2 linked regions of the Homo sapiens genome follow. The protein of the gene in region 1 purifies or fractionates together with the protein of each later gene. This does not show direct contact. Each region holds a gene or a part of one and is shown in the gene's direction. Other genes may lie near its edges.

Region 1 (3,500 bases):
TTTCCCATGCACACCCTTTCCTTTGTAGATATTGCATATTTCACTACTAGCACTGCCCTATCAAATGCTTTCTTAGAATATGAGACATAGGGGAGAAGTTCATAAAAGGAACTTTGTAGAGAGACAAATGAAATTAGGCTCTATTGTTTCTGAGAAGTGAGGGGTCATTTCCATGTGTGCAATATGTCATTTTTATTTCTGGATGCTTTATATATTTTTGTTATCTTTGGATTTCAAAAGTTTGACAATGATGTGCCAAGCTGCAGGAGAACGGGGTGTGGAGTGTTACGTGTGGTGTTTATTAGAGTTGAGGTTTACCAAGCTTTAATATACAAATTTATGTTTTTTATCAAATTTGGAAATTTCTTCTTTATTATTTCTGCAAATGTTTTTTTAAATCCATTCTCTGTCCTCTCCTATGACTGTAACTTGTTAGTCCTTGAGGTTCTGCCCGTGTTTTTTTACTATCCGACTTTAAAGAAAAAATTTACAAACTTTGTTTTTGAGCAGATTTAGGTTTTACAAAAAAATTGAGCAGAAAGTACGGAGTATTACCATGTGCTCCCTTGCCCGGTCCGTTTCCCCTATTATTAACATTTTGCATTAGTGTGGTACATTTGTTACAATTGATGAGCTAACATTGATATATTATTATTCACTGAAGTTCATATTTTGCATTCAAGTTCATTCATTGTATTGTATAGTTCTATGGGTTTTGACAAATGTGCAAATGACCGATGTCAGTATTATAGTGTCATGCAGATTAATTTCACCACCCTAAACATCATCTGTGATTCACTTATTTATCCCTGTCTCTGAACCCCTGGCAAGCACTGATCTTTTTACTGTCTCCATAGCTTTGCCTTTTCCAGATATCATGTAGTTGGAATCATACAGTATATGGCCTTTCCAGACTGGCTTCTTTCACTTAGCGACATGCATTTAAGATTCCTTCCTTTTATGGCTTGATAGCTCACTTCTTTTTATTGCTGAATAATATTCCATTGTATGGCTGCACCACAGTTTGTTTATCCATTCACCTGTTGAAGGACATTGTTGTGGGAAGTCAGGGACCCTGAATGGAGGGACCGGCTAGAGCTGTGGCAGAGGAACATAAATTGTGAAGATTTCATGGACATTTATCACTTCCCTAATAATACTCTTAACGCCTGTCTTACTTTAATCTCTTAATCCCGTTATCTTCGTAAGCTGAGGATGTACGTCACCTCAGGTCCACTGTGATGATTGTGTTAACTGTACAAATTGATTGTAAAACGTGTGTTTGAGCAATATGAAATCAGTGCACCTTGAACAGAATAACAGCGATTTTTAGGGAACAAGGGAAGATAACCATAAGGTCTTTACTGCCTGCGGGGTCGGGCAGTAGGAGCCATATTTTTCTTCTTGCAGAGAGCCTATAAACGGATATGCAAGTAGGAGAGATATCACTAAATTCTTTTCCTAGCAAGGAATGTTAAGACCCTAGGAAAAGAATTGTATTCCTGGGGGGAGGTCTATAAATGGCCGCTCTGGGAGTGTCTGTCTTATGCGGTTGAGATAAGGACTGAAATACCCCCTGGTCTCCTGCAGTACCCTCAGGCTTATTAGGGTGGGGAAAAAACGCTTCTTGGTAAATTTGAGGTCAGACCAGTTCTCTGCTATTGAACACTGTTTTCTGTTGTTTAAGATGTTTATCAAGACAATATGTGCACAGCTGAACATAGGCCCTTATCAGGAGTTTTTGATTTTGCCCTTTGCCTTGTGATCTTTGCTTTGTCCTTTGCCTTGTGATCTTTATTGGCCTCAGAAGCATGTGATCTTTGTTCTCCTTTTTGCCCTTTGAAGCATATGATCTTTGTGACCTACTCCCTGTTCGTACACCTGCTCCCCTTTTGAAATCCTTAATAAAAACCTGCTGGTTTTGTGGTTCAGGTGGGCATCCTGGACCTACCGATATGTGATGTCACCCCCGGCGGCCCAGCTGTAAAATTCCTCTCTTTGTACTCTTTCTGTTTCTCAGACCGGCCGACACTTAAGGAAAATAGAACCTACACTGAAATATTGGGGGGCGGGTTCCCATGATAGGACATCGTGGTTGCCTTCAAGTTTTAACAATTAGGAATAAACATTTGTTTGCAGGTTTTTGTTTGAACATAAGTTTTCAAATCATTTAGGTAAATACAAGGAACCTGATTGCTGTATCATACATATGGTTAGGTGTGTTTAGTTTTATAAGAAACTGCCAAAGTGTCTTCCAAGCTGGCCATACCATTTGCATTCCCACCAGCAGTGAATGAATTTCTGTTGTTCCACATCCTCACCAGTGTTTGGTGTTGTCAGTGTTTGGGATTTTAGCCTTTCTAAAATCCAAAAGACTAATAGTTGTGTAGTAGTATCTCATTGTTTTAATTTGCAATTCCCTAATGACATACAATGTTGAGCATCTTTTCATATGCTTATTTGCCATCTGTATATCTTCTTTAGTAAGGTATCTGTTCAGATCTTTTGCCCATTTTTAAATTGGGTTGCATGGGTTTTTTTTTTTTTTTTTAATTGCTGAGCTGTAAGAACACTTTGTATGTTTTGGATACCAGTCCCTTATCAGTTAGGTGTTTTTATAAATATTTTCTCCTAGTCTGTCGCTTGTCTTTTCATTCTCTTAACAGCATCTTTTGCAGAGCAGAGGTTATTTATTCATTTGTTTTTAGAGGGTCCCGCTCTGTCACCCAGGCTGGAGTACAGTGGTGTGAACACGGCCACTGTAGCCTTGACCTCCTGGGCTCTAGCAGTCCCCTTGCCTCAGCCTCCCAAGTGGCTAGGACCACAAGCACACACCACCATGCTTGGCTGATTTCTTAATTTTTTATAGAGACAGGGTCCCATCATGTCTCCCAGGCTGGTCTCAAACTCCTGGGCTCAAGCAGTCCTCCCACCTTGGCCTTCCAAAATGCTGGGATTATAGGCATGAGCCACTGCACACAGCCAGAAGTTTTCTATTTTAATGAAGTCCAACCTAAGTTTTCCCTTCATGGATCCTGCTTTTGGTGTTAGATCTAAAAAATTATCACCAAACCCAAAGCCATGTAGATTTTTCTCGTATGTTCTAAGAGTTTTGCATTTTATATTTAAGTCTATGATCTCTTTGTTTTTGTTTCTGTTTTTTTAGATAAGAGATCTCACTCTGTCACCCAGGCTGGAGTGCAGTGACTTGATTGTAGCCCACGGTAGCCTTGAACTCAGCCTCCTGAATAGCTGGGACTACAGGCACATGCCACTATGCCCAACTAATTTTTTACATTTTTTAGAGATGGGGATCTCGCTATGTTGCCTAGGCTGGTTTCAAACTCCTATCCTGACACAGTCCTCCCACCTCAGCCTCTTGAGTAGCTGAGATTATAGGCTTGAGCCACAGTGCCCAGCCCACTATCAAAGTTGACGCATTTTTGCCTGGATTCATTTTGTTTGGTATATAGATGTTTTGTTGTTCCAGCACTGTTTGT
Region 2 (3,500 bases), on another chromosome or scaffold:
CATCTTTAACTGGTAACTAAATAACCCTGACCTAGAAGTTTCACAGAAATTTCAATATGGCCAGGCTTACCTTTCTCTTTTTAATTGTATTTATATTATATTAGATTGTCCTTGATTTTACTCCATATTTTTGTTTATTTCTTATTTTAATTTGCTTTTTACTTTTTCTTAGTTTTGCATATTTGATTAAATTACTATTAATTTTATTTTCCCTCATAAGTTTGAAAATTCTACCTTAGTTTTCCAGTCAATTAATAGTCACCTTACCTTTCCCTGTTAACATATTCAGAAACTGTATATGATTAGCTGTTCTAACATGCCTCTAAACTGAACTCCTTCCTCAACCTCTCATACTTCCTCATTATCATTCAACAGCATATCTGTCTGTAATCTCGGTCTTAGTAAATAGCATTATCATTTTTCAGGTGCCCAAGTGAGAAACCTGGAGTTATTCTAGATTCTTGCCTATCCTTCAGTTATCAAATTCTGCTACTTCTATCTCGGTATCTCTCAGGTGTGTCTTCTTCTCTATAACGCCCCTTTCTGAGTTCAAGCTCTCAATATTTTTCTTTACTATTTCAGTTGTTCAAGTTGGTTTCCAAGTTTTTTGTCACGTTGCTTCTCACCAGTCCATGTTCCACACTATCAACATAATGGACTCTTTAAAATATTGATATGGCCGTAGAGTTTCACAGTTTAAAATCATTTTGTGGTTCTCTGTGCTATGCCAATAGGAACTTCTTACTCCTTGTTGTTTTACATTGGTATCTTTGGTCATGCTTTCTCTCCGCCTAGAATGCCTTCTCCTCATCTCAATCTCCTTCTACTCCAATTCTTGCTCATTCTTTAAGATTAGTCAAAACAATTTTCATTCTTCTCCAAAACATTTCTTTATACAACACCCCGCTAGAACAGATCATTCCTTTGTTTATGACCCCACTATATCTTGTATGCAACTTTATTATAGTACCTATCATATTTTATTTGGTATTTATTTGCTTTAGTTCTTCTTACTAGACTATGAGCTTCTTGAAAATATAGGTTATATATTATTCATGCCTGTATTCCCAGGGCCCAGCACATATAAGCTTCAATATATGTTAGATATGTTTAGAAGAAACCTCTAGTGGCATTAATATTTCAAAACACAAAAAAGTACAACTGCCTATGAGAGAAAAACAATTAAGAAATGAGATTTCCAATTAGGAAATGAAAAGAAAATGACAAGTAGTTTCAGTAATCATTTTATATATAATTTCTAGAATTTTGATATGTTCTCTCTTCCACTGAACAGAAGAATTTTCTTTTCTCTCTTTAGCATTCAAGTGTTTCATTGTCTTAAACATGAAGGAACTGGTGGCAGGACACTGCTAGTAGATGGATTCTATGCAGCAGAACAGGTACTTCAAAAGGCACCTGAGGAATTTGAACTCCTCAGTAAAGTGCCATTGAAGCATGAATATATTGAAGATGTTGGAGAATGTCACAACCACATGATTGGGATTGGGCCAGTCTTAAATATCTACCCATGGAATAAAGAGCTGTATTTGATCAGGTGAGTATCAAAGAACTATCCCCAACTGTAATATATTTGCCAAAGATTAGCCTTCTAATGTAACAAAAATCCCTAAGATTCTTATATCTGCTACATTTTAATCTTGCTATTCTATAGCTTTTTATTATCAAACAGTTTGTATTCTTCTTATAATTCCCATGGAATAGTAAATAGCCACCAACCAAAGAATACTAGGTTTATTTTAGGGGTGGGGTCAAATATTAGAGGTAGTATTTTTTAAATGAAAACATTATTAAATGAAAAAGAGTTATTAAATTATCCTCAGTGACCAAACAGCTAGGTTACCCAACAACATTTATGTATCCAGCCCAGATTTATGCAAAGCTCTTGACCTGTGTATTCAATTGACTACTGATATCACAACTTAGATATTTTGTAGAATATAAAACATATCATATTCAAACGTGAACTCATCACTTCTACTCATTTTAAACCTACTTCTCCACTTGTTTTCCCATTTTCATTGAATGGTACCACCATCCACTAAGTTTCCCAAGCCATAAACCAAACATCATATTTAATTTTTCCCTCTCCCTTATATTACACAACCAGTCTTATCAACTCAATCTCCTATATTTTTCTCAAACTATCCCCTGCTTTCTATCTACAATGCCTCTTCTTGCAGTGAGAACACTTTTCTTTCCCATGGCTAAAGTTGTAACTGATGTCCTTGCTTCCATTGTGAGCCCTCTTCCATTAATTTTTCATGCTGAGTCTTATCTTCTGCTCCCATGTTAAGATCCTTCTAAACCTCCCCAGTGTCTTTCAGAGAAAGACTAGAGTCCTTCCTTATGGCTTTTAAGGTTCTGTATGATCTGATCCCTTCTTACTCTTCTAGCATGTAATTCATGTTTTCCATACATTCTTCCCTAGCTATTCCAAACTGCTTTGGGTTTCTGGAGCCCATTATTTTGCATCTTGCAGCCAAGCTTTTTACTATGCATTTTTGCAGATGGATTACCGCTCCTGCTTCTGCTTATTCCAAGCAAACTGTTACTGTGCATTAATTCAGTTTACTCAGCAAATATTTCATGAGCATCTACCAAGAGTCATGCTCTGTTCTTGACACTGCAGATGAAACTGTAGGCACAATAGACAAAAATTCCTGGCCATCTTGGAATTCTCATTATAGTGACGACAGAGTAATTAAAAATAAATAAGCAAATATATAATATATCAAATTGTGATAAGTACTAGGGAAAAACAAAAAAGCAGGGAAGGAGATATGGGGTGAAGAGGCAGGGTGAAGATAGCTGCAAAACTTGACATACTACAAAGAGTACAGGCTTTGTAATCAGAAGGAGTTCAGTGTGAAATCCTGTCTGCCATTTATTGATTTTTGGCCTTGGACAAGTTACTTAACCTGCTAGTCATGAGTTTCCAGTTACAATAATAATACCTTCTGTGCCCACTTGTTGTGAAGTTAAAAATAAATTGTTATCCTTACCTTTACCCCTGGCTTGTAGGAGGAACTGTGTAAATATTAATTTACTTCCCTTGGATAAGTTCCTCTGGGAAACTCTCCCTCTGTTATCTCTCATATATCTAAGTGCCTAAAACAATGAGTAGTAACTCTATTTTCCCAACATTTTATTATGAACATTTCTAAACATATAGAAAAGTTGAAAACATTTAACACAGAAAAGCCATAGACTTACATCTAGATTCTACCATTAAGATATTTCTATACTTGCTTTATCACCTATCTTCCCATCTATTCATTCATCAGTTAATCTTATTTTCAGTGAATTTTAAAGTATAATACATTGCAGATATCAGTACATATCTCCCTAATACTTCAACATTTATATCATTAAGTAGAGTTCAATATTTGCTTACAGCTTTTTAAAGTTACAATGTATATGCAATGATGTTTAAAATATTAAATATACACTCACTGAGTTTTGACCAATGCATATACCTA

What was found. The genes of interacting proteins can lie anywhere in the genome.
Region 2: the proteins of ACAA2 (region 1) and TMLHE purify together in Homo sapiens (affinity purification with mass spectrometry; one large-scale study listed by BioGRID and IntAct). This does not show direct contact.

The regions. Positions count from the first base shown.
Region 1 is NC_000018.10:49,807,034-49,810,533, reverse strand, and holds part of ACAA2 (3-ketoacyl-CoA thiolase, mitochondrial), read left to right. Parts: intron 1-3,500. UniProt on the Homo sapiens protein: In the production of energy from fats, this is one of the enzymes that catalyzes the last step of the mitochondrial beta-oxidation pathway, an aerobic process breaking down fatty acids into acetyl-CoA.
Region 2 is NC_000023.11:155,504,953-155,508,452, reverse strand, and holds part of TMLHE (trimethyllysine dioxygenase, mitochondrial isoform 1 precursor), read left to right. Parts: intron 1-1,318; coding exon 1,319-1,555; intron 1,556-3,500. UniProt on the Homo sapiens protein: Converts trimethyllysine (TML) into hydroxytrimethyllysine (HTML).